5 separate regions of the Homo sapiens genome follow, and regions 2, 3, 4 and 5 are each reported to be linked to region 1. The links are microRNA targets in miRTarBase. Many come from high-throughput screens and were not tested one by one. Region 1 holds a microRNA gene; each other region holds the end of a gene's coding sequence.

What was found. Region 1 holds the annotated microRNA hsa-miR-4659a-3p (UUUCUUCUUAGACAUGGCAACG, at 3,287-3,308, shown strand). A microRNA usually pairs through its seed, bases 2 to 8, with sites in the 3' UTR of a target mRNA and lowers its output. Matches are read on the target gene's strand: a 7mer-m8 pairs with bases 2 to 8, a 7mer-A1 pairs with bases 2 to 7 and ends in A, and an 8mer does both.
Region 2: miRTarBase lists FAM204A as a target of hsa-miR-4659a-3p. Seed matches in the 3' UTR shown: 7mer-m8 at 3,715-3,721.
Region 3: the mRNA of TMPRSS11B is a reported target of hsa-miR-4659a-3p. Seed matches in the 3' UTR shown: 8mer at 2,835-2,842.
Region 4: miRTarBase lists NEGR1 as a target of hsa-miR-4659a-3p. Seed matches in the 3' UTR shown: 7mer-A1 at 4,268-4,274, 7mer-A1 at 4,406-4,412 and 7mer-A1 at 5,259-5,265.
Region 5: the mRNA of ZG16 is a reported target of hsa-miR-4659a-3p. Seed matches in the 3' UTR shown: 7mer-A1 at 5,333-5,339 and 7mer-A1 at 5,227-5,233.

What each region holds. Positions count from the first base shown.
Region 1 is chr8:6,741,926-6,748,461 of GRCh38, forward strand. MIR4659A (microRNA 4659a) reads left to right here and starts at 3,239; the gene lies at 3,239-3,319. AGPAT5 (1-acylglycerol-3-phosphate O-acyltransferase 5) reads left to right here. Exons shown (of 8, transcript NM_018361.5): 6 at 5,745-5,903. It overlaps MIR4659B (microRNA 4659b), which reads right to left and starts at 3,315; the gene lies at 3,243-3,315. RefSeq lists enhancers at 2,530-2,809, 2,840-2,919, 4,532-4,581, 5,183-5,477, 6,400-6,536 and a silencer at 4,342-4,391.
Region 2 is chr10:118,305,728-118,312,263 of GRCh38, reverse strand. It overlaps FAM204A (family with sequence similarity 204 member A), which reads left to right. Exons shown (of 9, transcript NM_022063.3): 8 at 951-1,057; 9 at 1,356-6,536. The coding sequence ends at 1,407. Among named protein-coding and RNA genes, the nearest start is that of FAM204A, 33 kb to the left of the region's middle.
Region 3 is chr4:68,223,700-68,230,235 of GRCh38, reverse strand. TMPRSS11B (transmembrane serine protease 11B) reads left to right here. Exons shown (of 10, transcript NM_182502.3): 8 at 720-979; 9 at 1,352-1,494; 10 at 2,164-3,583. The coding sequence ends at 2,325. Among named protein-coding and RNA genes, the nearest start is that of TMPRSS11B, 19 kb to the left of the region's middle.
Region 4 is chr1:71,402,410-71,408,945 of GRCh38, reverse strand. NEGR1 (neuronal growth regulator 1) reads left to right here. Exons shown (of 7, transcript NM_173808.3): 7 at 1,376-6,536. The coding sequence ends at 1,500. Among named protein-coding and RNA genes, the nearest start is that of ZRANB2-DT, 320 kb to the right of the region's middle.
Region 5 is chr16:29,780,138-29,786,673 of GRCh38, reverse strand. It overlaps ZG16 (zymogen granule protein 16), which reads right to left. Exons shown (of 4, transcript NM_152338.4): 4 at 3,701-6,536. The coding sequence ends at 6,255. It overlaps LOC124903675 (a long non-coding RNA gene), which reads left to right and starts at 1,341. Exons shown (of 2, transcript XR_007065048.1): 1 at 1,341-1,717; 2 at 3,420-3,707. RefSeq lists an enhancer at 1,303-1,392 and a silencer at 2,249-2,388.

The DNA.
Region 1 (6,536 bases):
TTCATGCTATTATTACATATATCTGAGAAATTAAGTTGAAGTGCTTGTTACGATACATATTCTTGTGCCATGGATTTATTTAAAATCTATCTAAGTACATGATTATGTAGATGGAAGCTTTTTCTACAGTGTATGGGTTATATGTAATGGAGCTTCTGTTTTGTAAGATGACAGACCTAAGTTGGAGTCCAAACTCGTACTTTTATTAGCTGTATGGTTGCAACTTGGAAGTTGTGTAATGTTGCTGAGCTTGCTTCTTCATCTCTTAAAAGAACATATGCCTTATAAGTAGATCTAAATCTGTGTGAGGATTAGATTAGAAAATATGTCAAGTTTCTATTGGAGAAGTTACACAAAGTTGGTCCACAGTGCTTGGAAGCTGTTAATGTCTTCAACAATGGTAATGTTCTTAATATCCATATTTTAGAAAATTGAATAATTGGTACACCAATAAGCTATGCAATTTAACCAAATTGGGAAGTATACAGAAAACAGTGGCTATGCTATGTTCTTAGAGGTGTCTTTGAAGCTTGACTGTGATTTAGTGTGTGATCTCCATATGTTGATAGTCACTCACTGAGCAAATACCTTGTTGGTGACATTACAGCAGGGCCTATGACAGTGCTGTCTAATGGAACTTTCTGCAATAATGGTAAAGTTCTTCATCTGTTCTGTCCAGTGTGCTGGCTCCTACCAATGTGGTTTTTGAGCATTCAACATGTGACTAGTGCATGAAACTAATTTTTAATTTTATTTAATTTTAGTTTAATTAAAAATAAGGGGGAGTTTTTACAAGGTGCTTACAAGAGCAGATATGTCATAGGTATATGACATCATTTGTAACAGTACTTTTAAAAAATGCCAGTTTGTTTTTAAACACATGTCCTATTAAGTAAGGAGTGTTTCAGAATAGGAGGGTTCAGTTGGTCTCCCCATCTGCCAGCTCTCTTTTGACTTTCATTGCTTCCTCTGTCTAATAGACATGACGTTCTGTCATTTCAGTTGCTCTTTTGCAATGCCATTGTCTCTTTTGCCCTTTTCACATTTATTAAACAGAACAAAACAAAAACCACTCTCGAATCTGTAGTCTACCTTTGTTGTAAGCACTTTTTCCAGTACTCACTCTGCCCTCAATTTGTTTTGGTCTGATTTGAAATTCTCTCCCTAGACTTCTGTGGGGCTGTTCTCCATTATCCTCCCAACTCTCTGGCGATTACTTCCTAGCCTCCTTTCCAGCCTCTTTCTGCTTCATTTCTCCCTGCTACATGTGTTATTTCCAGTGTCAGGTTTTGGTGTTTGATTAATTTCACTTTTTGTTTCTCATGGTGGCCTTCCTCTAAATCCATGGCTTTAGCCATCGTTTCCTTGACTGCTGATGACTCGCAAAAGCTTCCTCCCCTCCATGTCTCTCTGCCTAACTCTGGACCCATTTGTACAATTGTCCATTAGAGAGCTTCGCTTGACTGGCCCAAAAGGATGTCTCAAACTCAGCATATTGAAGATAGAATTTATCCTTCCATGCATACACTCATATTTCTTGTCTTGGTAACTCCATCATTCAGTTTTTTTGCCTAAGTTTTATTCACAAAAAGAACAAATTGATAGCAGTTGCATACCTCTTATAGGAAACTTAGACATGGAGGAAGAAGCTGTTCAGATGGGGTCCTGCAGAAGTGCAGGCACTGTGGTAATATTTAAACTTTTCTCAGCTGTTCGAAGGGTTTTGTTTTAACTAATTTTCCTTAGACTTGTTTTAGGTATTTGGCTTTCTAATGGTTATAAGGGATGTGGAATTAAATGTATCTTAATCTGCCACCTGGACCCATTAAAGTAAGCCCCTATGGTGGTTTTTTTTTTTTAATTGCCATGGTTAAAACCATAGTTGCTAGCGAAGGTGACATACTTAAGCTTTTTGAACTCTCTTAAAAGAAAACAGAAATTTAATGATGTGTCTATAATGGCAAACCAGATACCTAGAATTTCCATGTTATTCATAGGGTGAATAACACTGGCGATTGTAGAGATTTGAGAGTTCTTTCAAAACAGGAGAACAAAGGGAATAAGCTACAAAGCAATTTTTTTCTTTGTAGACTTAACTGAATAAAAATTATTTTTATGTCTCAAACATCATATGAACAAATTTAGTTGGCAAATGGCAAGCTAATAATATTTTATAATATAGGATATTAATATACTTAATATTACAAAAGTGCTTCATAATTAGAAAAGACATAAACTAGAAAAATGGGAAAAGGGCATGAATAAGAAATTCAAGAGATACAAATGACCCACACACTTGAACAAATGTTTATTCTTTCTCATAATCAAAGAAGTAGAAATTAAATGAATACTTTGAAGCCAACTTCTGAGAAAGCATAGCAAACAAGAAAGCTAGTGCTCAGCTTTGTGTGGTAACGGCACTCTCGCTCTTAAGAAGGTGTGTTTGCTCCCTGTGGCTGCTCTCAGGCAGGGCCACAAACTTGGTGGCTTAAAACACCACAGATTTCTTCTCTTACATTTGAGAAGTCTGAAATGGGTCTTACTCAGCTGAAATCAAGGTGTTGGCAGGGCTGCAGTCCTTTGTGGAGGCTTGGGGGGATCTTGTTCTCCTGTACGGGGTCCTGTGCTTGGTTCGGGGTCCTGTGCTTGGTCTGGGATCCTGTGCTTGGTTCGAGGTCCTGTGCTGGGTCCAGTGCTCTGCTTTTACCACCTTGAAGTTCATCTGGAAATGGCACTGGCTCGCCCACACCATATAGCTGACTCTGGTTCTCCCTCCTCCTCACTCGCTCTAAACCTGTGTTTTTGGCTGATTTCTAATCTCTCTTTCCTTGGCCCTTCTGCAGCTTGCAGGGCCTTCTGCAGCTCTTGTCTGCCCCAGCCCCGGGGTCTGCCCATCCCAGTGCTGGGCTGTTCTGTTCCTGCCCTGCCTTTCCTCAGCCCTTGGCAACCCTGTTTGTTTTCTCCCTTCCTTAGCAGTGGAGAACATCGTAAGATCAATGCTGACTGCCTTCTGCAGCCAAGCCAGGCCATTTCATTTCAGCCGAGCCAAGTCTGTGTGGAGCAGTTCTTTTATTTTTCTCCTTTTGACTACCTCATGGTTTTCACGGATTTTTGTTCTCTTCACATTCAAGGATTTTTTGCTTTCAGAAAGTTATATTTCTCTGGAAAGAGTGCACCCAATATCCCTTTTGATTTCAAAATCTTAATGTGGAGTCTCTTGACTTGGATTTCTTTGGAAGAAACTGCTGAAGCTGCCATGTCTAAGAAGAAAACTTTGGAGAAAAATTTTCTTCTTAGACATGGCAACGTCAACAGTTTCTAAGCTCTTGATTCCGTCTACCCTGTCTCCATCGTTGCCTCAGTCATCTGCCTTACTTCTCTGCAGGGGTTTCTCCCAGCTTGCAAATGTACTCCAATTCTGAAATAACTAAGTCTATAGCTGTGCAAAGAGAAGTCTGGGCCCCTTGCTTTCTTGTGTTTGACTCCATCCACTCTCCAGAAATGAATCCCACTTCTCACTTAACCACTGACCTCCAAAGCATCGTATCATTTGTGTCAGTTGTCATATTTGTTAACTTTCACATAACTTTTGACATTATTTATACCTTTATAACCAGGAAATAATTTTAACTTTATTGTAGAAATAAACAATGGAGTATAATTTTTCTTGTTGAAGATAAATATCACCTCCTCTTCCTTTAAACATCTCTTCCCTTTGTTTTTGTATTACATTGGTTTCCCCCCTTTTTTTATTTCCTGGGTTGTCGTATTCCCTGTTATTATTTTTACCTTTTTTTTTTTAATGTGGATGTTTCCGGAGTCTGTATTTCTTGCCTTTTCATCTTCTGCCCTTTATTATTCTCAGCCACTGCCATTACTTCAGTTATCCATTCCCATGGTTTCCACATGCTTAGCTTCGGTTGATTCTTGCCATTTTACAGACCATATTTCCAACTACTTCTAGAATGTTTTGTTCCTTCAGCCTCAGTATGCCCAATTTGAACTCATGTTCTCTCTCCCCCTTCTTTCTTCCTTCTTTCTTTCGCTCTCTCTCCCTTCCTTCTTTTCTTTCCCTCCCTCCCTTTCTTCCTTCCCTCACTCGTTCTCTCTTGCTTGCTTGCTTTCTCTCCTCTCTCTCTTTTCTTTCTGCATTCTTCTCCCTCCCTCTCTTCCTTCTCTCCCCCACTCCCCAACTTCCAGGCTAAAGCAGTCCTCCTGAGTAGTTAGGACTACAGACATACACGTGCCACCGCGCCCGGCTCCGTGTTCTCTTTGTTTCCCTGCCTCCTGCTCTTCCACTTATCTTTGCATGGCAGGTGGGTGCACGCAGGCATGCTCTGCATGTCTTCCTCTTGGCCATTCCCCTTCTAGTTATGGTGTGGCTTTATCTACGCGTTCTGGAGCAGAAGCCTAGTCACAAAGCTATTTTTTTAAAACATTCATGATAATTCATTTCCTTTTATGTTTTAAAAATACTAGCTTTCTGTCTTTATTTCCTTACTAACTTACTTGGATGCCAGTAATTAGTTGTTTTAGTGAACACCACAGAGTGATATTTTGAAACTTTGGACTTCATAAAGTTGGATGAGCTCCAGTAGCAAAGAAGGAAGTGTTAACTAGTTTAACTGACAAATAAATGCTTCCCAGCTTGGTGTGCGATTGAGATTTTTGTTGCAAGTTTGTGAATCAATTTAACTGCCCCTGCCCTGGGGACTAAAGTCAGATACGTGCTTGTGGGAATCTTTGTCTTTCCCACACCACCCTGCATTTTAAAACCTCTTGTGTGGGACAGTCCCACCATGTAATAGCTGTTCTTCCTTACTCAGCTACTTTCCCTCCAGAGAGGCCAGTAGAAAATCTAGACTAGTTTTTTATAGTCTATTTTCATGTCACTTATTGAGAGCTACTGTTTTCTGTTAAATTGTCAGTAAATATTTTAATCAAGGAAAAGGGAGGTAATAGGAAGGAGAGAAGAACAAATCCTTAACCCTAGTAGGAACCTAATGAATGGGATTTGTTCTGGATAATTGCAGTAGTCCCCCAGCTAAAGAACCTTTTAAAAATATGTCAGATATACCCAAGAGGATTGAAATCGTATGTTCATACAAAAGCTTGTTCACCTGCAGCCTTCATATGCAATTCCTATGAATGTTCATAGCAGCATTATTCATAATAGCCAAAGTATGGATGCAACCCAAATGTCCATGAAGCAATTAATAGGTAAACAAAATGTGATCTGTTCACACAGTGGAATACTAACTATTCAGCCATAAAAAGGAATGAAGCACTGAGTCCTGCAGCCACACAGATGAACCTCAGATCCATGCTGAGCGAAAGAAGCCAGAAACAGGAGGCCATGTGCTGTGTGACTGTATTTCTAGGAAATCTTGAGTCACCATGGGCAAGATGCTATCACCTTTGTTCAGTGGCCAGAAGCGAGGGCACTAATATTTACCCTTGCCGGGGTCTACTAGATTGAAGCGTTTCCGCTAGGCCATAAACTTCCAACACGGTGACTTGTACATGTAGATATTTGATCAATATATAGCAAATGAATATTGATTTAAACAGAAAAAGGCAAGTGAGAGTGCTTTCTAAACTTAGAGCCCTAAATATATGAGGTTGTGGAATTAATAGATTCTGTTGTGTGTGTTTGAGGGAATTTAAAAATAATTTAGATGTTAAACAGTATATTGTGGAGGTGTTTTGTAACTAATTAATGACGGCACTGAATTGACTTCTAGGCCTTGCAGTATTAAAACATGTGCTAACACCACGAATAAAGGCAACTCACGTTGCTTTTGATTGCATGAAGAATTATTTAGATGCAATTTATGATGTTACGGTGGTTTATGAAGGGAAAGACGATGGAGGGCAGCGAAGAGAGTCACCGACCATGACGGGTAAGTGTGTTCACGCACCTGAAATGCCTGTACACGGTATATACAGTGCACATGTTTATGTAGAATTCAGTTTTACAAAGTAGGTTAAGTGTACTTTTTTCCTTCATTACATTTACCCGGTATATTTTTCAAGATGTTATTAAGATGTAACAGTGGAGATTTCATTAGTCCTGCAAAGTGTGGTATTTCTTGGCTGTCGTGTGAGTCCTGTGGACTCACCAATTATCATTAATCCAGCCTCTTTCTACTCAAAGTTCACACTTAAAAGGAAAGCTCTGTAAAAGGGAGGAAGACGTGAAGAAGGAGCACGCCCGGCAGTACTGAGTGCACGTTATTAGTCAGTGCTGCCCTTTTGCTGTATTTTTCGTAAAATATTTATTAAATTTGGGTGTCATTGTGACAAGAAGAAATGCAGTTAAGTGTGACCTTTTTTTTTCCCCAAACATGTTAGGTTTTAAGAACCTTTGAGCTATTGTCAGATATAACCAGAAAAAAATAGAATTTTAAGTGAGCAGGATAACTTAGTTAAACTAACCAAACATAGTGTTAGCTGTTAGAGAAATGTAAACATGGAAATAGGCAAACAGGGAAGTGTGTGGAGTTTCTGTTTCCTTTTCAAAATATCTGTTTGAG
Region 2 (6,536 bases), not on the chromosome of region 1:
AAGGCAAGAAACACCAAAGAGGTACTTCGTTTTTATTGTTTAATCTGGGTTCTTAATGGGTACTCTTGAGCTGTCCGCATTGGTGGGCATTTTAAAACTAAGAGCACACTAAAAGTAGAAGATACCATCACAATGCTTATCCTGGAGATGCTTGCTGGGGAACAGCTCTGCAGCCAGAGCGCCGTGCAGGGCAGAGTGTAAAACTGAAAGCTGGAGGGCTGGAGAAACAGGGACTGTTTTAGGTTGAGTTAAAGAAGACTTCTGGGATGGGGGGATTTCACGGTGAATGGATCTTGTAGGACTGGCAGGTGGGTGTAAGGGGGGCACACATAGAGGGCCCTGCACAGGGGACACTTAAGTACTGTGGTCCTGGTGCTCAGCCTTTTCACCTTAGCACCCCTGATATTCTTTTTTCTCTCAGTGAATTAAAAGCTGTTACCGATCATACAGAGTGCATTTATGAAGTAGTAATTAGCTTTCCCATGTTTTATTAATCACATCTGTGACTGCCAATCAGAGCTTCTGATCAGCATGAGATAACTGGTGTGACCATACTGAGTTGCTGTAATTCTAGCCCAGAGCAAAGAAACTTGATGTCTCTGTCAGTGTCTGCAGCCTTATCAGGGGTAAATTCCTGTTCAGCCTACTGCAATGCTGAAATAGCTTGAAGATCCTCATTACTACCTTTGTGGACCCTCGAGGGGCCTCAGTTTGAGAAGGATTTCCATCCAGGAGACTGGTATAACTAGGGTAAAGGGTCTATTGGGAGTCACGGGAGATATGGGTCCTGTCTTTGTATTCATTATACTTTGAGAAGGAATGAACATAGAATTTCTAATTTCTAGACATGGCTTTCTTACCCACAAGTTCTCAATTATTTGTATAAGTGTAATTACTGTATTAGCTGGAATATTTATTTTCACTTTTTTTTTCTCCTTTGTAATTCTTAGCTTGGTGTAAAAATTGCCAAAGCAGTTGCCTGCCACAACTTTGTAAAAGCCAAAAAGGAGGTTGAAAATTCACAGGCTGCCCGAAAAAAGAAGAAACTTGCATGGGGGTGAGTTTACTTAAGATTTTTGGTAGTAAATCTCCTGACTTCATAGAAATTCTGCTAATATATTTTGTGATCTAGTTCGTGTATAACTGTTAACTCATTTTACATTTTTTTCTTCGTTGAATGTTTATCAGATTATAAATATAGAGGCATTTCTTCATCCTGTTTAATGTTTATTTTGTAATCATTGGAGTATGTGAAAAATTTTTGTTTGTTTTGCTTTGGTCTCTAAGTAAACATGTTCAGCAAAGTATTTTTTTTTTTAAGAAATAAATTGAGATTTGTATGTTCTTCCTTTTAGGTTTGAAGCAAAGAAGAGATGGGAAACCAAAAGCAACATGGGATACATGTAACTTGCCAGAGTGCTTCAAGACATTTGTAGACTCAAATGCTCAATTTACTGAGAATGTTTTCCTGCCTATGTTAATATGTCAGAAAATTGATAGCACTAAAACAAAAATAAGCATAAAATTTGGGATTTTGATTATCAGCTCTTTTCAGTCTTTCTTTAAGGACTTTGTCCTATTGAAGTGAATAAAATGAAGCATTCTGTTATTTGTATAAGAAATGTAAGAAAAAAAATATAGAAAGAAGAGGATAGGATTTTGTTTATTTGTATGGATGGACCCTTGGTATAAAATCACTTTTGGCGCTTTCCATTCATTTGGTTTAGCACAGCCAGTGAGCTTCTCGTACTTTCTTTCTTTTTTTTTTTTTTTTTGAGACAGAGCCTCGCTTGCTCTGTCACCCAGGCTAGAGTGCAGTAGCACGATCTTGGCTCACTGCAACCACTGCTTCCTGGGTTCAAGTGATTCTCATGCCTCAGCCTCCTGAGTAGCTGGGATTATGGACAAATGCCACCACACCCGGCTAATTTTTTTTTTTTTTTTGTATTTTTAGTAGAGACAGAGTTTTGCTGTGTTGGTCAGGCTGGTCTTGAACTCCTGGCCTCATATGATTCACCTGCCTCTGCCTCCCAAAGTTCTGGGAGTACAGACATGAGCTACCATGCTGCCCTTGTATTTTCTTATCTGTACCCAGTGTAACTACACGTTTACTGGAACTGTGTTTTTAAGACTGACAGTTGTTTATAATGGATTAGTCGTAAGTACCAAAAAGTCTCAGTTGATATTATCTTTACAAATGACTTGACCTTAATGTTATAAAAGTAGTTACTGTTTTTTTTTAATTGGAGGCAGACTTGATATTTCAGAGTTGCATAGTAAAAGCAATTTGTTAATTTTTGTGTACTTTCAGATAAACTATTACAATAAAGAAAGGAGCAGAATGTAGTATTTGGAAGATGATTTAAATTCAGCAACGCCTAAAAATGTCTTCCTAAGTATTTTTCTCAGCCATGTCATTCTTTAAATTATGAGATGGTTCTTAGAAGAGAAAATGGTGTAATTGTATTAAACAGACAATTATAACTCAAGATAATATAACTTTGAACCTTCTAAGAACTGATTTGTTTGGTTTTCCTCCCATTCCCCATTCCTCCTTAAAAGATTGAATGAATTAATGAGCAGAAAGAGAGGATTGGTAACATGGGAAATCGTTTTCATTAGATGTACATTTCCTGGTTCTGACAGGAAAGGGGCTCCAGAAAATCATAAAACAAGCAGGTGAACAAGACCAGGTGTGTCGGCACCTCCCTGCTCAGTGCCCAGCGGAGGTAAAGAACCACTCAGCATGGTTTTTGTCAGTTCACCTCTTCTGTCGTTGTCAGAGGTTTCCTACCTGTCTGATATAAACTTTCTCTGGGTTGATAATATAAATTCAGAAACATGTAAAATGAATCATGATTATATTACTGTTATTTTTAGACTTAAAATAGTAACAAAATTTTATTTATGGTGGCACATTTAATGGCTTTTTTTTTCTGTGTTCTGGAATAAGAGAATACCTAGCTACTATTTAAGCATCCAAAAATCATATCTTGCTTTCATTTAGTTGAGAAAAGCCAGCATAGAGAAAGCAAAGTTTTAGAATATTATGTGTCATACTAATTCAGTATCCAGACCAAATGTTGGAAAGTCTTATTTTATGATTTAATATCCCTTGTTCCATTTTACAGATATGATCATGTAAAACTTACCTACAATATTCATTTCAAACTGCTAAATTAGGTAAATACAGACTTTTAGTATAGAAACCTTTCCTCTAAAAATCCATTATGGGGGAAATATTCACTATACAATCCAGTGGTTTTGTCTGAAATCCTAAAAATGTTATTTTTGAGCAGGCGAGTGGTATAGATATTCTCACACTTGGGGCCCCGATATGGGCATTTCCCTTTGACTTCAGTCTCATTTTTTTTTTTTTTTCTGTTTCTACTCCTTAGAGCATTTAGTGACCCCTGCAGGCATGTTGCACTTCCCATACTGAAGCCTTGCCAGAGTGGCCTCCTGTAGGGTCTGACTTGGGATCCTGTCCAGCCAAGGAAGCCCTTCTTCAGCCTGCTCCAGTGCCCGCAGTTGCCCCCTCAGCATCCCCTCGGGGTTCTCATGTAGATGGGAACATTTTAACTACGCGGAAGGCAGGCATTTCAGCAGAATTAAGTATAGCGGGGGCTCATCTAATAAAGGAAGCCACTTCTCCCAAGTCGTCACTCCTTTCTGGGCATGGGTTGTGGAAAGCTCTAAAACGTTATGTGTAGCAGAAGAAGGGGTTGGAGGGAAGATTTGTGGGGACAGGTTGTCTTGGATTGGCCCTGCTGACATGTCATTTGAGAGCAGTTTTATTTTATCCTTTCTAATAGGAATTAGGTATTTTACTCCTAGAAACATTATTCCTTGAGTACGCATGCTGCTCAAAGGATGTAGTCATTTGTCCACTCCATTCTAGTCACAGCAAAATAAGGATTCTTTTTGGATCAGTAATAACTTTGGTTCCTAAAACTTCAATATGTGCATTTACTACCACCAGAATGCCTGAGTTAGATCAGTAATGTAAACGTCAGTTATTGTTAACTGAGATTAATATGTTTCAGGCCGTTGGTATGGCATTAATGTAACTATGATTTACTATTTAAGTACTTTAGGCTAAAACATCTTACTAAAGAACAGTAATTTTGAGCTTTACAGCACTGGTTCTGAGAAAGGGAAGTTGGCAGTGCATTCTTGTTTGGGAGCCCTCAGGATGTTTCTGATTTTCAGCAGAACATTCTATGTCTTTCACCGAAAGGAGAGATTGAATATATAATCTTAGGTTTGCTATAATTAGTTCTGATGACAGAGTTAAATACCTCAGCCAAGACTGTAAATCAGTACGTAAACAGGTTTCTGCAACTGATCATAAATCTCAAACTGCATATTTTAAACACTTATTTTTTTAGGATGACAGATAAGGGAGCAGCAGGCTAAGGATAGGAATAAAATGTTATCTGAACTTTTAAGTCACAACTTAGAACTCACATTAAAATCTTCTGATTTTCTTTATACCTTTTGTCTAAAATATTATCTTTTAGCTTATTAATAACTTTAATAAGACAAGTTTGAATTTAATTCACAAAAAATGAAGATATAATTTATAAAATGTCCAAATTTTTGTTAAGACATTACTTTTTAAGAAATGTGTGTCTTGCTAAATATAAAACATATTGTATGAGGTTGTTGTTTAAACAAAATGAGAGTTGTACATTATTTTTTAAGAGATGATAAAGTTTGAGGAGGCAAGCCGATGTTATGTCAGATCTCATTTTGAAGTTAGTGAAACCTAGTCTAATCCAGAACCAACTGAATCCAAGTTTTCCATTTTGGCAGAAGTTGCTTTTATTTTTAGTATCTGGCAGAGCAACAAATGCTTTGCATGTCAGTTCAATATTTTTTCCTGCCAACTGTTTATTCATTGGCTTAAAATTTACACTCTACTAAAGTCTTAGCTCTGACTTTCATGAAACAAATAGTAATATTTGGACAAAATATGTACATGAAAATCTTTTTCCAGAACCAAATGTAGACTGGTATTTGTGACATCAGTGCCTTCTAGCATGGTGACGGGTCGAAAAATACTTTGAAAAGTTGAAGGCTGTGTAAACCCACGGCAGTGCATCTCAAGTGATTTTTATTATGAGGTAATCAGAGTATCTAGGTTTTCAAATTTAAATTAGTGGGTGACTTTATGCTAGAAAGTAGAATATGTGTTAGAATAAATTTATCAATATATATTCTTGGCCTTTGTAGGATACTGAGACAATAAGGTCCATTTTTCATTTTTGAGGTTGGGGAGCTCTGTAGATTTTGATAAAATGTGCAGAACTGCATTCTTTAATCTTTATTATTTCATCCTCCCTCCACACTGCTTGCTTTAAAAGAAAAAAATACCTACACACATTTTCTAGTGTTAACTGCTGTAATCAGCATAGACTTCCTGGGAAGGGATTCTTGCCTTCAGTAAAGGACATGACAGCATGTGGCCAATGGAGATTGCCACGAGGAAACCTGGAAAGGCATTGAACCATTTTGTGCTACTGTTAAAATGAGGTGTGTTGTCTCTTTATTATCTCCTACTCAATAGTGAGTATTCTGGAGGTGTCTGTTCCCTTTCCGGAATTTCTTCAAATACAGAGATGCTTCAGAGTAGCTTCCTGCCACATTGGCTTTCATGATCTTAATCCCTGGAACACAGCTATAGGCTTCTGGGAGATAGTTTATTAAATGCCATGCAGAATGCTATGTTTTTAGATGTGCATGTAAATCAAGAATTAGCTGAGGAATATCTTTTTATTAGTAGTAGTAGTAACTCATTTTTAGATTCAAGTAAAGTTTGTTTTCCAGGTGAGATGACATTTTTAAGAAATTGAATTTAAGTATGTGCTTTTATATCCGGACCAGGTTTCTCAAGGAAGCAGAATACAAGGGAATGAAAGGGGAAGGGAGGGTAGTGCCCAAGAGAAACCTCGGCTCCTAAGTGCTCCCCTGCCAGGTTTCCCCCGTGCCTGCCCACTGGCACCATCCTGGCAGCTCCAGCCCACACCCCCTCCTGGACCCTGGGCTGCCTCTCGCTGAATAGCTGCAGGGGGCCTGCTATGTGACAGGTATGGAATGAGGTAATCCTTTTCCACCTCTAATTTCTGAAGGGTGTGTCTGTCCAGTTTTTACTTGTTCATTGAATTTAAAGCCTTAGGAACCAACAGCTACAGTGCAAGCTGTAATTATTGATGTCTGTTTCATATTCATCTGTAAGTTCTGGCATTTGATCAAGAAGTCAATATATCACTTCATCTTCAGGCTGAATGTGTCTCAGCTATAAAGGTTTTATTGTTTGATGGATAGCATACAATTATGACTGCCCACAATAAAAAGTGTTTTCATTTGTAAGATGGGTGATACTAGAAGTAATTATGAATGTCACAAGGAATAGTGAAACAATGAAGCTTTGCGTTTCTTTGAATTTCTCCCTACATAATGCCCAAGGAACATTTCCTGAATGCCTACTATATGTCAGATAAACTAACTCTTGCAGATGCAAGGATGAATAA
Region 3 (6,536 bases), not on the chromosome of region 1:
CCATATGCACTTGTATGTACACCACAGCTCACAATAGCAAAAACATGAAATCAACCTAGATGCCCAGCAACGGTGAACTGGATAAAGAAAATATGGGTCATATACACCATGGAATACTATCCAGTCATAAAAAAGAATAAAATCATGGCCTTTGCAGGAACATGGATGCAGTTGCAGGCTATTATCCAAACTAAATGAATTAATGCTGGAACAGAAAACTAAATACCACATCTTCTTGCTTATAAGTGGGAGCTAAACACTGAGTACATATGGATACAAGGAGGGGAACAATAGACATTAGGGCCTACTTGAGGGTGGTAGAAGGGTGAGGGTAAAAAAAGTAGCTATTGAAACCAAGGGTATGTGGCAATAAGACTAATCCTGGACCCCATCCACTTACGGAATTGAGGACGCTCATGTGATTCCTGACCAAATTAAATGTTCAGAAACTGGATGGAACTGAATAAGCAGGGGAAAACATCAGTGACTCTACTTGAAAAGATCTTCAGAAAGCTGACAAATCTGAGTCCTTAGCATTATTTTTAAGTGACTGCAACATTTACAACAGCTCCATGTCAAAGATAGTTTTCAAAATAGAATTTCAGTGGTTTATAGTTTTGTTTGGGAACCTCATGCCTTAAAATTATGAGATAATCACCACTAAGAACAGTGTTGTGACCCAGCAACTGAGTGTATTCTAATTACATTGTGTCCTCTAGGAAAAATAATTCAAAAGATTGGACTGTCAACTTTGGAATTGTAGTAAATAAACCATATATGACACGGAAAGTCCAAAACATTATTTTTCATGAAAATTATAGCAGTCCTGGGCTTCATGATGATATTGCCCTTGTGCAGCTTGCTGAAGAAGTTTCTTTTACAGAGTACATTCGTAAGATTTGTCTTCCTGAAGCCAAAATGAAGCTCTCAGAAAATGACAATGTTGTAGTTACAGGTTGGGGAACACTTTATATGAATGGTAAGTTTTTTTGTAAAATCATAATAGCTGCATGGGAATAACTATTTAATCAATCAATCAATCAATCAATCAATCATCCCCTCATGCAATTAATCAATCAGTAAATATACTGAAAAGAAAACCAAGTGGTGGGACAAAAAGCATGATGTCAAATTGTCTTCACTTCCTAAAATATCTCTGGGAATGGGAATTGGAAAAATTGAAATTATGTGTTAGGCAGCCAACTATTACAAACACCTGAAAGAGACTAATCTAACCTGGGACTGGCCTGACTCTTGGTGACCAAGAGAGTCTGCTTTATGCTATAGGTAGATATTCTTTGTCCCAGCAAAGTCTAAGATCTGCATAATATGCAGCACTTATTGCTTTTAGGTTCATTTCCAGTGATACTTCAAGAAGACTTTTTGAAGATTATTGACAACAAAATTTGCAATGCCTCATATGCATACTCTGGCTTTGTGACTGATACAATGTTATGTGCTGGATTTATGTCAGGAGAAGCTGATGCATGTCAGGTATGTCTAGTTACATTATCCAGTTGTTTTCTCCCAGTTAATCAAATGGAAGTTTTTATCCACATAAAATTTTTTTTGTGTTAATAATACTGACATAGTAGCTTTGTATTTCAATACACTAAAAATGTATTAATTCCATTTATGTACCAGACACTAGCCTACATGCTAGGGACGTGGAGGTGAACACAATCCTGCCCTCACGAAGTTTTCAATCTGGGAATTCATACAAAGAATAACACTTAGAAGAAGTTTACAAGATGAATTTTGTCCTATTTTCTGGGCAACCTGCAGACCTAGAATGTTGTCTTCTCTTTATCCAGAGATGCATCAGGAGTCTGGGCACATGCCTATGCCACTTGTTCCTCAGAGGCTTCATCATAGAGACTTAAGCTCAGTGCAAGCAGCTAAGTCACCTTCTCCATATTCAAGCTGCACTCATTATATAAGTCAAACTCTGGTTTGCTCAAGTCAACATTTGGCAGTTTTAGGCCATATATTCTGGTTTGTAGCTGTCTTGTGTTTTAAAAAAAAGTCCTAAGGGTTTCAGAGTTCTAAGCCCAAAGAGAGTGAATTGGTTTCAGTGCCCAGGAGGTACAGATAACTCCACAGGAGAGGTAAAAGGAAATTTTTTGTTAAGACAAGAAACATTTTTTTCTTTTCTTCTTCTAGAATGATTCTGGTGGACCACTAGCTTACCCTGATTCCAGAAATATCTGGCATCTTGTTGGAATAGTAAGCTGGGGTGATGGATGTGGTAAAAAGAATAAGCCAGGTGTCTATACTCGAGTGACTTCTTATCGCAATTGGATTACATCCAAGACTGGACTCTGAAAAAAAAGGAATTATACAAAGGAACATAAAGACCACTGTAGGCTATCCTTATCTGTGGCTTTGGGATCTTTTTATTTTGATTGTTGGTAAACTAATCATTTTATTATATATAAAAATATAAATGTCTTTATTAATATTTTATTATATCTAAAACACTGTCCATGCATTTATTAATCTTTTAAATTAATGTAAGAGATAGGAAGAGGCCAGGTGTAGTGGCTCATGCCTGTAATCCTAGCACTTTGAGAGGCCGAGATAGGCGGATTGCTTGAGCCCAGGAGTTTGAGGGCAGCCTGGGAAACATGGCTAAATCCGTGTTCAAAAAATACAAAAATTAGCTAGGCATGGTGGCGTGCACCTATAGTCCCAGCTATTCAGGAGGCTGAGGTGGGAGGATTGCTTGAGCCCAGCAGGTTGAGGCTGTGGTGATTTGTGATTGCGCCACCACTGCACTCCAGCCTGGGCAACAGAGTGAGACCCTGTCTCAAAAAAAAAAAAAAAAAAAGGAGAGAAGAAAATAAAGAAGGCTAATATATAATTTTTCTTAATAGCTGAGTTGTGATTCATTTTACCATTATATTCAGAATTGACCTTAATTTGTTTTCCAGAATCAAAAGAAAATAAAATATAAATTTTGAAACTATGAGAACATATATAGGGGATTTATCAAATGAGTTACTTTTTATTATATCAATTATAATTTCATTTTATTAACTGGAATAAGTGCGAAAGTGTACATTACTTTTTAACTTATATGTGAAATGATTCATGTACCTCACAAAATCATGCAATCTTGCAGTGAAGAAGGAGTATCAGAGCTCCAGCTACACTGAGTCTTTCAATTTACAGATCAAGAAACTGAAGACCAGAGAAGAGAAATGATTTGGTTAAAGTCACTCTCCATCATCTGTGATAAGTTGACAAATTTATCCTTACACAAATTTGTCCTCATTGAGTTGACATCCAAAATTTGTCAGGAATTAAAGAATGACTTTTGAGTGGCAATTATTTATATAACATTTTCCATTGTCTTCATATTCACCTTTTGTCATTTGTTTGCTTTCTCTTGCAGCAAAAATAATATGAGGTCATCAAGGGCAGAGAACTGTGTGGCATCTCCTTATAGTAAAAGTGCAATCATATGGATGGCTAACTTTGTAATCTCTACAAATAATTTACCTTATGTAATTTTCCAAATGTAAAAGTCACCAAAAACTTAAAGGCATTAAAATAAACTAAAAAAGTACTCATTTCTTCATTTGTTTGTGGAGCTACTCTTTTATTCTTTATTATAAAGTATGGCTCAAATGATATGCATATTGACATCAAGCAAATCTATAACCATCTGTGACAAGATGGTGTCTTTCTCTCCTCACTTCTGTTTCAGGCCAGCCACATGTATTTATTGAGTCCCTAGTGTGTTTCAGGAAATGTCAGGTATAGATACAATGTCTTCCTTCAAGGATACCACATTTAGTGAATAAAGATAGGCAGTAAACACATAAATAAGATAATTTTGGATTACGATAAATGTTATAAAGGAAATAAAAAGTAATGTGATAGAAAATGATGGAGCAGATAAGCTATAATTTAGATTGGGAAGTCTGAATGACATCTCTGAGGGGGTAGCCATTTGAGCTGTACCTAAAGGATGAAAAGCCAAAACATGGAAAACATATGAAAGAAAAGATATCCAAAGGGAACAAGTATGAGATCCAGAGAGAGAGAGAAAAGTGAGGTGGATATGTGCAGCAGAAAGAAGGCCAATGTGATTGAAACCCCATGGATAAATGAGAGATGGTAGGGGAGAAGATGGAGGAGGTAGATGGGGGCCAAGTCAAGTACCGCTTGGTAAGCCATGGTAAAGACCTTGAATTTTCATTCTAACTGCAATGGGAGGCCCAGGAGTTTTCCAAGCAAAGGGAGTGAGATAATCTAATATGCACTTTGAAAAGATTACATAACTTTGATGAAGAGAATGGGCTGGAGTGGGGGTGAAGAGCACAGAATGCAGGCAGACTGGTTAGAAAGCTACTGCAGCTGTCCTAGTAAGAAATGAACACATATTCATCCTTTTCCTTGGGCTAGGAATATGCCTTGGTAGGATAACAGAAGACATCCTTTTATAGTGCAACCCAAAGTAGAACAAAGTTTAATATTACTAAGAGGTCAAAGGTATTGCAGGCTGTATAATGATTTCCTTGTCTTATAGATAGTTAATTCAGAAGTCAGATGTTTACAAGCATTTAATTTATCCCCGACATCATGAGTTGAATCACAGTCTGTCCCTTGCTTCTTCCAGAGGGAAAACAAATGGAACTGAATGAGTAATAACCCCAATATGGAAGAAAGAGGAAAGTGATTGGAAGGAAAGGGTGGACAGGAATTTGGAGGAGGATGGGAGATTGGTGGAGGAAGAGAATTTGTGAGACTAAGGGGTCCATGAGAAAGAAATGAAGCGTGAAGATTTCTCAAGATTGAGGCTTCCTGGTTGAACAAGGAGGGATATGATAGCATGAGTGGCCAATCTCCAGGCTTGGTGTGGAGGTAAGGAGCAGGTGGGGCAAGTTGCATAAGGTAAAGCAGTTATTATTCAGCCAAAGGTGGATTCTTTATGGGGTGCAATAGTAGCCTTTACTTCAGTCTTAACAACTTAGAATCTTCACTTTCATATGGACTGTATGTGTGACGGATCAGCTAAAAGTAAGTGTTTTTTTTTCTTTTTGGTAGTAATAGACTGCGCCATCCTGGCCTTCTGATGTTAACAGCACATTGAGAAGTTCACACAAAGAATTAGAGGTCTGCCTTGAGAAATAAAACCAACAACACTAATCACAATGCATGAAAATTAAAATGCTAAATTGACAAAAGTATCATTATTTGCATTACAAAATTAGTCACCATTTTATTAAAAAGTAAAAGATTTTCTCAAATAAAATGCTTTTACTACTCATAAGTGGTATGGAAAAGAAACCAGAGATGAATGATTAAGGAGATATTTTACGCTCCCCCCATTCCCCAGCTAAGCAGAACAAAACAAAACAAAACAAAATAAAACAAAGAACAACTTAGACTAATTTAATTATTTCTTCCTGTTTTTAAGTAGGGGAAGTTGAAGTCCATTTTGAAGGAGTCCATTGAGCAAGAATTTGAGAAAGAGCATACCATTACTGACTAGCGGGACCACAGCTATTAATAAATGTCCATATGTTCTTGAGAAACATAAAAAATTATGTGTTTGAAATATGAAACTGTTTGTGATATAAGATAGGGATATAGTCTTGTGCACTATGAAGCATAAGCCAAGATCTTTTTGTGAATGTAGTGCTAATTAAAATGGCATTTTTTTAAAGATTGAAAAAAAAATTAATGCCATATATGATAGCACAAAGTTGACAAGGTTGTTCCCTCCTTCTTGTGAAGCCTCCAATTAACCAACCAGTTTAGGCTTTAATAAGGAATTTTTGAAAGTGACTTCCTTGTTCAAGGATTGTGTCTACTCTAGAAACATCTCCAACTTATCAGTGTATGAGAACTCTTTTTTAACTCATAAGGCAGTATTTTGTTATGCAACACAGACTTTCATATTAATGCTTTCAAAGAATGTTTTCACTGAAAATGAATCAGAAAAGAAGAGACGAAGTGATGAAAAGTATCTAAAAATGTTTTTAGGTTTATTTTTAAAAATTTGGTCTTAGAGGCAGGGTGCGGTGGCTCACACCTGTAACCCCAGCACTTTGGGAGGCCAAGGCAGGCGGATCACGATGTCAGGAGAACGAGACCATCCTGGCTAACACAGTGAAAACCCCGTCTCCCCTAAAAAATACAAAAAATTAGCCAGGTGTGGTGGCGGGCGCCTGTAGTCCCAGCTACTCGGGTGGCTGAGGCAGGAGAATGGCGTGAACCCCGGAGGCGGAGCTTGCAGTGAGCCGAGATCGCGTCACTGCACTCCAGCCAGAGCGAGATTCCATCTCAAAAAAAAATAAAAAATAAAAATTTGGTCTTAGATATTGGTCTAATGGCTCAAAGCCTGCTAGAAGCTGTTTTCCATTGACTGGAATTTTTATTTTTATTTTTTGGCATACCTGAAAATATCTTCATGTTCTCCTCATTGAGCTTGTCATTTGCCATTTGTTATGACTTAAATACTGTGATCAGTCATGACATCTACACTCACTGCCCCTGCCCCTATCTCCCCATTCACTATCTAG
Region 4 (6,536 bases), not on the chromosome of region 1:
TTTAATTTCTTGGAAGTGTAAACAGCAGAATTTATTATTCTTGTTACGTAGCAATATAGTCATTTGTGAACATTTCATTAAAACTATCTGCTGGCAATTCAGACTCAGTGTGACTAAACCTGCTCCTGGATTTGAGTTATAAATTTAGAAATGAAGTAGTCGATTTCTTTACTACATTATTCAATTTCTACTAGGAAATAGTGCTTGAAATCCAGGTTTCATTAAGAAAAGGTGGTTAAAATATATTGGCAGGTTTTTTGTTATTACAATTATTATTATTATTATGGTAAATGAGAATCAGTCTCAAACAAGTCCAAGCACGGCTGTAACATTTAATTTCTGGAACACAATATAATTCACTACAACTAGGCAACTGTCTGTTCATAAACAAAGTGAAACCCATTCCAAACACTCCAATAATATCCCAAACTTGGTGAATTTTCAGGTATTCAGTGAAAATTCAACATGACTGTTAGCCAAGTACCATGTGAACTTCCCCATATATAAGACTGTAATATTTCTGATGTATAAATGTAGTCATACATTCAACTCTCCAAATTCTTCAAAATGTCTTTCAATATAAAAACCTAGTCCCTTTTTCATTACAGTAGAGGTCATTCTACCTGTCTAGAGGTCTAGTTTCAATTCCCTCCACTTCGGGCCTCAAACTTCATGGTCCAGCAAGACTAAATCTACCTTTATATTCTATACGACACACCTTGCTCTGTCCTTTTATTATGCCTTCGAATATGTTATTTCTTCTACCCACATGATAGTCTCCTTTAGTAAAACTGTATTTGAAATCTCCCTTACCCAGGCAATTTAAAAGCACAATTTGTCTGTGTTACTGGGTATGCACATGCAACTCTAATATTCTGTATTATAATTGTTTGAAGATCTTTTCTCACCAAAAAAAGGCCTTGGAAGGGACAATATTCTTGTTTTCCTAGCATTTAGTACAGTATTTAGCTAATAAAACACAGCTATATATACACATGAATGACTATTTGTCCATTAATACAAATATTTACAGTACATATAAGAGGAATAATAATGTTAGTAGCTGTTGAGTACTTAGCATGTGTTTAGTTGATGTAATATGCTGTATGTGCTTCATCTCCAATTCTCACCACAGCCCTGTGAGGTGGATTCTATTATTTCTATTATTTTCATTTTGCCCTTGAGAAAACTGAAGCTCTGAGAAGTTAGCCACATAGCCCACACGTTGTCATATAGCAGAATCAGATATGAACTTCAGTCTGTCTGACTCCAATGTCAGTGCTTTCCCCGATGCACCTGGCTACCTTTTGATTATTGTCAAGATCCTGGAAGACACAAATTAGATTTTGATTTAATCTTTTCCATTTCTTTCCAGCTCCAAGTACAGCCCAGTATGGAATTACCGGGAGCGCTGATGTTCTTTTCTCCTGCTGGTACCTTGTGTTGACACTGTCCTCTTTCACCAGCATATTCTACCTGAAGAATGCCATTCTACAATAAATTCAAAGACCCATAAAAGGCTTTTAAGGATTCTCTGAAAGTGCTGATGGCTGGATCCAATCTGGTACAGTTTGTTAAAAGCAGCGTGGGATATAATCAGCAGTGCTTACATGGGGATGATCGCCTTCTGTAGAATTGCTCATTATGTAAATACTTTAATTCTACTCTTTTTTGATTAGCTACATTACCTTGTGAAGCAGTACACATTGTCCTTTTTTTAAGACGTGAAAGCTCTGAAATTACTTTTAGAGGATATTAATTGTGATTTCATGTTTGTAATCTACAACTTTTCAAAAGCATTCAGTCATGGTCTGCTAGGTTGCAGGCTGTAGTTTACAAAAACGAATATTGCAGTGAATATGTGATTCTTTAAGGCTGCAATACAAGCATTCAGTTCCCTGTTTCAATAAGAGTCAATCCACATTTACAAAGATGCATTTTTTTCTTTTTTGATAAAAAAGCAAATAATATTGCCTTCAGATTATTTCTTCAAAATATAACACATATCTAGATTTTTCTGCTCGCATGATATTCAGGTTTCAGGAATGAGCCTTGTAATATAACTGGCTGTGCAGCTCTGCTTCTCTTTCCTGTAAGTTCAGCATGGGTGTGCCTTCATACAATAATATTTTTCTCTTTGTCTCCAACTAATATAAAATGTTTTGCTAAATCTTACAATTTGAAAGTAAAAATAAACCAGAGTGATCAAGTTAAACCATACACTATCTCTAAGTAACGAAGGAGCTATTGGACTGTAAAAATCTCTTCCTGCACTGACAATGGGGTTTGAGAATTTTGCCCCACACTAACTCAGTTCTTGTGATGAGAGACAATTTAATAACAGTATAGTAAATATACCATATGATTTCTTTAGTTGTAGCTAAATGTTAGATCCACCGTGGGAAATCATTCCCTTTAAAATGACAGCACAGTCCACTCAAAGGATTGCCTAGCAATACAGCATCTTTTCCTTTCACTAGTCCAAGCCAAAAATTTTAAGATGATTTGTCAGAAAGGGCACAAAGTCCTATCACCTAATATTACAAGAGTTGGTAAGCGCTCATCATTAATTTTATTTTGTGGCAGCTAAGTTAGTATGACAGAGGCAGTGCTCCTGTGGACAGGAGCATTTTGCATATTTTCCATCTGAAAGTATCACTCAGTTGATAGTCTGGAATGCATGTTATATATTTTAAAACTTCCAAAATATATTATAACAAACATTCTATATCGGTATGTAGCAGACCAATCTCTAAAATAGCTAATTCTTCAATAAAATCTTTCTATATAGCCATTTCAGTGCAAACAAGTAAAATCAAAAAAGACCATCCTTTATTTTTCCTTACATGATATATGTAAGATGCGATCAAATAAAGACAAAACACCAGTGATGAGAATATCTTAAGATAAGTAATTATCAAATTATTGTGAATGTTAAATTATTTCTACTATAAAGAAGCAAAACTACATTTTTGAAGGAAAATGCTGTTACTCTAACATTAATTTACAGGAATAGTTTGATGGTTTCACTCTTTACTAAAGAAAGGCCATCACCTTGAAAGCCATTTTACAGGTTTGATGAAGTTACCAATTTCAGTACACCTAAATTTCTACAAATAGTCCCCTTTTACAAGTTGTAACAACAAAGACCCTATAATAAAATTAGATACAAGAAATTTTGCAGTGGTTATACATATTTGAGATATCTAGTATGTTGCCCTAGCAGGGATGGCTTAAAAACTGTGATTTTTTTTCTTCAAGTAAAACTTAGTCCCAAAGTACATCATAAATCAATTTTAATTAGAAAAATGAATCTTAAATGAGGGGACATAAGTATACTCTTTCCACAAAATGGCAATAATAAGGCATAAAGCTAGTAAATCTACTAACTGTAATAAATGTATGACATTATTTTGATTGATACATTAAAAAAGAGTTTTTAGAACAAATATGGCATTTAACTTTATTATTTATTTGCTTTTAAGAAATATTCTTTGTGGAATTGTTGAATAAACTATAAAATATTATTTTGTATTGCAGCTTTAAAGTGGCACACTCCATAATAATCTACTTACTAGAAATAGTGGTGCTACCACAAAAAATGTTAACCATCAGTACCATTGTTTGGGAGAAAGAAACAGATCAAGAATGCATATTATTCAGTGACCGCTTTCCTAGAGTTAAAATACCTCCTCTTTGTAAGGTTTGTAGGTAAATTGAGGTATAAACTATGGATGAACCAAATAATTAGTTCAAAGTGTTGTCATGATTCCAAATTTGTGGAGTCTGGTGTTTTTACCATAGAATGTGACAGAAGTACAGTCATAGCTCAGTAGCTATATGTATTTGCCTTTATGTTAGAAGAGACTTTCTTGAGTGACATTTTTAAATAGAGGAGGTATTCACTATGTTTTTCTGTATCACAGCAGCATTCCTAGTCCTTAGGCCCTCGGACAGAGTGAAATCATGAGTATTTATGAGTTCAATATTGTCAAATAAGGCTACAGTATTTGCTTTTTTGTGTGAATGTATTGCATATAATGTTCAAGTAGATGATTTTACATTTATGGACATATAAAATGTCTGATTACCCCATTTTATCAGTCCTGACTGTACAAGATTGTTGCAATTTCAGAATAGCAGTTTTATAAATTGATTTATCTTTTAATCTATAACAATTTGTGTTAGCTGTTCATTTCAGGATTATATTTTCTACAAGTTCCACTTGTGGGACTCCTTTTGTTGCCCCTATTTTTTTTTAAAGAAGGAAGAAAGAAAAATAAGTAGCAGTTTAAAAATGAGAATGGAGAGAAAAGAAAAAGAATGAAAAGGAAAGGCAGTAAAGAGGGAAAAAAAGGAAGGATGGAAGGAATGAAGGAAGGAAGGGAGGAAGGGGAGAAGGTAGGAAGAAAGAAAGGATGAGAGGGAAGGAAGAATCAGAGTATTAGGGTAGTTAACTTACACATTTGCATTCTTAGTTTAACTGCAAGTGGTGTAACTACGTTTTTCAATGATCGCATTTGAAACATAAGTCCTATTATACCATTAAGTTCCTATTATGCAGCAATTATATAATAAAAAGTACTGCCCAAGTTATAGTAATGTGGGTGTTTTTGAGACACTAAAAGATTTGAGAGGGAGAATTTCAAACTTAAAGCCACTTTTGGGGGGTTTATAACTTAACTGAAAAATTAATGCTTCATCATAACATTTAAGCTATATCTAGAAAGTAGACTGGAGAACTGAGAAAATTACCCAGGTAATTCAGGGAAAAAAAAAAATATATATATATATAAATACCCCTACATTTGAAGTCAGAAAACTCTGAAAAACTGAATTATCAAAGTCAATCATCTATAATGATCAAATTTACTGAACAATTGTTAATTTATCCATTGTGCTTAGCTTTGTGACACAGCCAAAAGTTACCTATTTAATCTTTTCAATAAAAATTGTTTTTTGAAATCCAGAAATGATTTAAAAAGAGGTCAGGTTTTTAACTATTTATTGAAGTATGTGGATGTACAGTATTTCAATAGATATGAATATGAATAAATGGTATGCCTTAAGATTCTTTGAATATGTATTTACTTTAAAGACTGGAAAAAGCTCTTCCTGTCTTTTAGTAAAACATCCATATTTCATAACCTGATGTAAAATATGTTGTACTGTTTCCAATAGGTGAATATAAACTCAGTTTATCAATTAAAATATGTATTTGACTCATTTTAAAACTCTATTAGCTTAAGAGAAAGAAGGAAGAAATAATAATTTGAAGATATTTCTGCTATTCTCTTTATTTCCTGTATTACACTCATCTTTCTGCTTACTCTAAAGCAGTACAGGGTAAAAATTCTAGATGCTACAGTTTCAAATGACTCCACACTATATTCTTTCTTGCTGTTGCTGATTCCTAAAAGGTTTGATGAGCTGAACTACATCTAAACTAAAAATAAATTTTCTGGAAACATTTTATTATTAATTATTTAGAACCTTTACCTGGTAAAATACAGCAGAGTTAGCAACAGAGACTAAATATCCTGTTGATAAAATCCTGATGATCTTACAGGCTAAACAACTGAAAACTCAAACGCTTGTAAGAGCCAGGCAGAGTGTAATTTCTTAACAGCTGGGTATAAAACAACGGGCACCTGAAGGTATTCAGATACAATTTCCTTAAAAATACCTTGGTTTCCAAGCAAAACACGTTATTTGGCTGAGAACCTTTAGTTTGTAAATACCAAACCATAATATACAAATGAGATCTCAAGCCAAATGAATTTTTTAAGCCCTCTTTCCCATATCTGTTCATCTATGATAGTCAACTGAATAAATGAGAACAATGTGATAGATAAAACAACAAAGCATAAAAAAGATTCATGCTTGGTTTTATAAGCTATTTTGAAATATAAGTATCATTGCTATTCTGAGAAATCTATATACACCAAAGCCCTCCCTCCACAAAAAAACTGGAAATGTTCTAATAAATGTCTGATTTCCCCCACAGCTTCATTATTTCTTCCCTTTTCAACATCTATCTTATCTATCTTGCATAAATTACATCACAGAAACAGAAACATCAAGTATCAGACATGGAAAACCAGCACATGAAACAGAGCTAGTTTCCCTCTCAAAAGAATAGGGCAAAACATAGATGCTTCAAAATCATATCTTGGTATACAGAAAATAATTATTCACTTTAACCTGACAGTCAGAAATGTAAGTAAGAATTTGTAGAGATAATTTTCCAAGGTAATTCATTCAAGTTAGTGGAATTTGATCCAAACACCCGTCAATGTACTCCCTCTGAACTTTCCAAGAATCATACACCTTCACATTTACATTCACTGTTTTTCTAGTAATTCCAAACTTACTCAAAAGTATTTCAGAATTGATATCACTGGTGGAAAGAGAGCAATTTAGCAAACAAATACATGCTTTCCGGTATTCCTAGAGAAAAGGAAAAGAGGAATACGTTTCATTCTTCTCCCTAGAAGCTCTACCCACAGTCATCCTAAAGCTAGACCAATCTCTCC
Region 5 (6,536 bases), not on the chromosome of region 1:
AAAAAAAAAAAAAAAAAAAAATTCCAAACTATGTCTTTAAAAGAAGCAAAGGAGGTCAGATGTAGTGGCTCATTCCTGTAATCCCAGCACTTTGGGAGGCTAAGGTGGGAGGATAGCTTGGGTCTAGGAGTCCAAGACCAGTCTGGGCAACCTAGTGAGACCCTTCTCTACAAAACATTTTAAAATTAGCCAAGTGTGGTGGCGCATGCCTGTACTCCCAGCTACTTGGGAAGTTGAGGTGGGAGGATCACTTGAGCCCAGGAGGCTAGGTTGTGGTGAGCGGAGATCATGCCGCTATTGTATTCCAGCCTGGGCAAAAGTAAAACATAGAGTTTGTGCCATAAAAGATAATTAGTGGGTCTAGGCCTGGCGCGGTGGCTCATGCCTGTAATCCCAGCACTTTGGGAGGCCGAGGCGGGCAGATCACGAGGTCAGGAGATCGAGACCATCCTGGCTAACACGGTGAAACCCCGTCTCTACTAAAAATACAACAAATTAGCCAGGCGTGGTGGCGGACGCCTGTAGTCCCAGCTACTCGGGAGGCTGAGACAGGAGAATGGCGTGAACCTGGGAGGCGGAGCTTGCAGTGATGCACTCCAGCCTGGGTGACAGAACGAGACTCCGTCTCAAAAAATAATAATAATAAAATAAAATAATAATAATAATAATTAGTGGGTGAGGCCGATGATTCTGTCCTTCAAATATGTGAAGATTAAATTAAGGTCATCTGGGACACAGCAGCAGTGATGGAGAAGAGAATGGGGGCTGGACGATAGAGGACCAGACCTGGAGGGTCTCGTGGAGAAGGGGTCCTCGAAGAGATAATGGAGCACCATGGGTGGCCAGGAAGCTATGCCAGTCTATCCCACGTGGACACCCTTTGCCTTCACTTTTATGTACTTTGATATAACAGCCGCATTGGCCGGGGCGGGGCACTACCAAAAGGCAGGACTCAGCCTGGGGTCCTGCTTCCCAGCCCCCAGGTAGCTCTCTGTAGAGGGTCCTTCCCTGCAGGCAATGAGCTCCCCGTTTGTAGCGGCTGTGCATGGGTTAATTGATGTCTTCATTGGAATGGTGAGGCTGGGTCTGCAGAAGAGGAAAGAAAAGAGTATGTTAATTAAAACTGTCAACTAAAGAAAAACTCAGGCTTTTAAAGAATTAGTTTTATTCACAAATCTTACCTAGAATGGCAACCCGTGAGCGACTTTGAGAGAGTTTCTGTTAGACTGCTCCAGCCCGTAGTTTGCGTGCGGGTGCTGGTGGGTCTGCCCTGCAGAGAGTTGCGTTAGCAACCATCCCTCCCTCCAGCGCTCGCCTCCGGGTCCCTAAGGAAAACGTTCCCCTGGTCAGGACGCTGGAGCGCGCATGGGCCTCGCAGCCATTGACGACTGGACGCGAGCTGCGGTACAAACCCCGACGCGGAGACGTTGGCGACAGTGGCCGCTGGGGGAGCTGCTGAGTGCCGCCCAGCACTGGGCTCCCTTTCCCTTCACTCTCGGCAGTTTCTTGCCTCCGTGGGTGGTTGGCGCGTCTGCGGAGCCAGAGTCGTTGTGTGGATCGTGGGACTGCAGCCCCAGCCAAAGGGCTGTCACGTCTGGTCGGTTCCGTCACCCACGGTTCCGGTTTCCAGTCGTTAAGGGTCCAGCAGTCTGTTAAGTAGCTCCCTGTCCCTTCTGGAAGCTTGGCCAGGGAAGGTCATTCCACCTTTGAGTTCCAGGTAGGTAAGGCCCTGGTTTAGACATTATGTTCCACTTGATTGAACAACAAAACAAAACAAAACACAAATCTTAGATCAGTGTTTCTCAAACGTTTAGCCTTGGGATCCCATTAGTCTTAAAAAATGAGGCCTCTAGCCTGGGCGTGGTGGCTCACGCCTGTAATCCCAGCACTTTGGGAGGCCGAGGCAGGTGCATCACGAGGTCAGGCGTTCAAGACCAGCCTGGCCAACATAGTGAAAACCCCTCTCTACTAAAAATAAAAAAATTAGCAGGGTGTGGTGGCAGGCGCCTGTATTCCCAGCTACTGGGGAGGCTGGGGCAGGAGAATCGCTTGAATCTGGGAGGTGGATGTTGCAGTGAGCCGAGATCACGCCACTGCACTCCAGCCTGGGCAACAGTGCAAGACTCCATCTCAAAAAAAAAAAAAAAAACAAAAATGAGGCCTCTAAAGATGCTCCGTATATATGGGTTTTGATCCATATTTACTGTATTCAAAATGAAACCAAATTAAAGTAACATCAGTGAACTTTCAAATTACAATAGCAAACCCACAGACATAGAAAGTACACCTGAGTGGTGGTTGCCAGGGGATGACAAGGGGTTGAGTAATTGGCACTACAGTGAACAGATGTAACTGCTTTCTTTTGGGGGTGGTGGAAGTGTTCTGGAATGAGGTAGTGGTAATGGTTGTACAATACAGTGAATATACTAAAAACCATGAAAGTGTACACTTTTAAAATGGCATTTTTTTCTTCTTATTAGAGACAAGGTCTCACTGTGTCACCCAGGTCGGAGTGCACTGGTACAATCATAGCTCATGGCAACCTCAAACTCCAAGGTTCAAGTGATCCTCCTGCCTTGGCCTCTGGAAGTGTTGGAATTACAGCTGTGAGCCATGGTGTTGGGTATCAGAAGAACCAGCCCCCAATATTTCAGCGTAGGTTCTTTCTATTTTCCCTAAGTGTTGGCCGGTCTGAGAAATAAAAAGAAAGAGTACAAAGATAGGAATTTTACAGCTGGGCTGGTGGGGGGTGACATCACATATCGGTAGGTCCATAATGCCCCACCTGAGCCGCAAAACCAGCAAGTTTTTATTAAGGATTTCAAAAGGGGAGGGGGTGTACGAACAGGGAGTAGGTCACAGAGATCACATGCTTCTGAGGCCAGTAAAGATCACAAGGCAAAGGGCAAAGCAAAGATCACAAGACAAAGGGCAAAATTAGAATTACTGATGAGGGCCTATGTTCAGCTGTGCATGTATTGTCTTGATAAACATCTTAACAGAAGACAGGGTTCGAGAGCAGAGAACCGGTCTGACCAAAATTTACCAGGTTGGAATTTCCCAATCCTAGTAAGCCTGAGGGTACTGCAGGAGACCGGGTCATATTTCAGTCCTTATCTCAACAGCATAAGACAGACACTCCCAGAGTGGCCATTTGTAAACCTCCTCCAAGGAATGCAATTCTTTTCCTAGGGTCTTAATATTTAATATTCCTTGCTAGGAAAAGAATTTAGCGATATCTCTCCTACTCGCACGTCCATTTATAGGCTCTCTGCAAGAAGAAAAATATGGCTCTTTTTGCCCGACCCCGCAGGCAGTCAGACCTTATGGTTATCTTCCCTTTTTGTTCCATTTTGTTAGGATATGACATATGTGACTCCATTTTGATACTGATAACATTCTTTTTTTTTTTTTTTTAGATGAAATCTCGCTCTGTCATCCAGGCTGGAGTGCAGTCGCACTATCTCAACTCATTGTAACCTCTGCACTTGTTCCCTAAAATCACTGTTATTCTGTTCTTTTTTAAGGTGCACTGATTTCATATTGTTCAAATGCACATTTACAATCAGATTTCATATTGTTCAAACACACATGTTTTACAATCAATTTGTTAGTTAATGCAATCATCACAGGGTCCTGAGGTGACGTACATTCTCAGCTTATGAAGATAACAGGATTGAGATTAAAATAAAGACAGGCATAAGAAATTATAAGAGTATTATTTGGGAACTGATAAATGTTCATGAAATCTTCACAATTTATGTTTAGTGATTGCAGTAAAGACAGGCATAAGAAAGTATAAAAGTATTAATTTTGGGAACTGGTAAATGTCCATGAAATCTTCACAATTTATGTTCCTCAGCTGTGGCTCCAGCCAGTCCCTCCGTTCGGGGTCCCTGACTTCCCGCAACAGTTGGGCCACCATATCTGTTTATAGAACCAATTGGATGGAGATTTGTGATAAGGGAATCCTTCCTCCTCACCACAGTGCCCCTGCCAAAGAAGAGGCTGGGGCTCTGCAGCTGCTGAAGTCACTGGATAGGCTGGGATAGATAGTCCCAATGCAAGCCAATGGCATTGATTAGGGAATCACTGATGAATCAGAGCATGATGCTGTGTTGCGTTTCAGGTGGGACTTGAACTTTTCAGGACCTGCATACACACTGAGACCTTCAAAGTGGTAACAGGGATGACAGATTTCTTGCCAGTCCCACTGCACATGAAGGCTGGTTGAGCCCTAGAAGATCCTACGGGGAACTTCAACTCCTCATTTTGCCTACAAACAGGTTGCTATGTTGCCCGGGCTGGCCTTAAACTCCTGGGCTCAAGCGACCCTCCTGGGATTACAAGTGTGCTGGGATTACAGGTGTGAGCCCCCTTGCCCAACTACCATATCCTTTTCTTGAGCCAACTGCATGGAGGTTAATGATAGAGAAGTCCTCATTCCCCACCACAGGGCCCCTGCCATAGAGGAGGCTGGGGCTCCGTGGCGGCTGCATTCACTGGGGCAGACATATTGCTAGCCCCGTATTGGCAGTGATGAGGGATCCAGCACTGTAACTGATGAGTTAAAGGACAGCATTTGGGTGCAAGAAGATGGCACTAAAACTGGTGCCTGTGTTTCCCAAGAGGCAGAGCAGCTCTTGTCTGTCACAAAGACCAGCTTCCTCAGGTAGTGTGTGAACCTGCCTGATCTGATGCCCAACATGATGGGTGATCCTTTCACCTGAACTTGGTCCACAGACTGCCTCTCCCTGCCATTGTCTGCTGATTCTCCACCCAGTCCTCCATGGTGTTATCAGGTGCAATGCTTAATTTAGGTGTCAGGTTGGTTCCATTTTGTTAGGATGTGACATATGTTACTCCATTTTGATACTGATAACATTCCTTTTTTTTTTAGATGGAGTCTCACTCTGTCATCCAGGCTGGGGTGCAGTTGTGCTGTCTCAACTCATTGTAACCTCTGCCTCCAGCATTCAAGTGATTCTCATGCCTCAGCCTCCCAAGTAGCTGGGATTACAGGTGACTGCCACCACACCTGGCTAATTTTTGTATTTTTAGTAGAGACAGGGTTTTACCATGTTGGAGGCTTGTCTCCAACTCCTGACCTCAAATGATCTGCCTGCCTTGGCCTCCCAAAGTGCTGGGATTACAGGTGTGAGCACTGTGCCCAGCCAGATATTGATAACTTTTACAAAACTAACGTATACCTTCACTCATTTTAATTTTCTTCCCTTCTTAAAATTTCTTTCCCCAACTACATAACCATCCTCTTCTATCTCTTTTGAGACCTCACCAGTGATCTCTTTTCAGAATCTCCAGCCTCTTTCTCTTTCTTCCTCTTTATCATGTGAACATGCTTGTGACTCTCCTGTCTAGGATTTTAAAAAGACACAAAACCCTTTTTCCTTACACCCCCGAAAACTGACTTGCCTATTTCTGGCAAACCACAGCCAAACTTCTTGAAACACTCGATTCTTGCTGCCTGTGTCTTCTCACCTCCCATTCATTCCTTAATGAGTTCAGCCTAGTGTCAGCCTCCCGCAGTCCACTGTAACCTTCTGATGGCTAAAGCCTAAGAGCATAGTGTGGGCAGGGTTTCCACTGCTGAGAAGGTGGTGGCTTCCTGAGGAAGGAGGAATCCCAGATCTGAGAGGGCTTAGCAGGACACCGGGGCTCATGGGTAGAGGTGAGGAGGAACTGGGCCTGGTAACAGGGCAGGGTCCTCGGGCACAGACTTCAGCTAAGTTTCAGGAGTCAGGTGGGTTCTGGGAAAGAACAAAGGCTAATGGTCCTGGCCACCCACACACAGCAAGTGAGTTCACCACTTTCTCAAGGGGAGGACCAGGGGTGAGGAGAGCTGGAGAGTGGGACATCTGGGGTTTTGGTGTAAGCCACAACTAGGCCTTGCCCTCAGACCCATGACTCCAGTTTGGATCAATGTTCCAAGGAGCTGTCCTTGAAGAGCGTTGATGCAAGCCAGAATCTCATCTCCTCTTGATAAATTATAGCACAAAGCCCAGGATTCTTACATACCTCTCCCTCATCTTCCCATCTTCCAGACAGATGTCCAAAGCCAGCCAGAAGTGAGATTTGCACGTCCCCGGCTAAGTCAGGAGGCAGATATCCCAGCCACAGATGCCCCCACACAGACTAGCCTTAACCATATTTTTTTTATTGAGCCATTTGGATGGGGGTTAGTGATAAGGGAGTTCTTACTCCTCATCACAGTGCCCCTGCCAAGGAGAGGAGGCTCAGCATCTGCTGCAGCTACTGGGGTAAACATCCCAGTGCAGGCCAATGGCATCGATGAGAGAACCAGACCGGCCACTGATGAAGCGGAGCACGGTGTTGGGGTGCAAGGGGACGGCATTGAAACTTGTGCCACTGTCTTTCCCAAAAGACAGATAGCGGCCCTTGTCTGTCACAAATACCAGCTTCTTCAGGTACCACTTGTACTTCCCAGAAACCTGGATCACTGATTCCCCAGGGTGCAGAAAGATCTCCTCCAGGTCTCCGTTGCGACCACCCACATA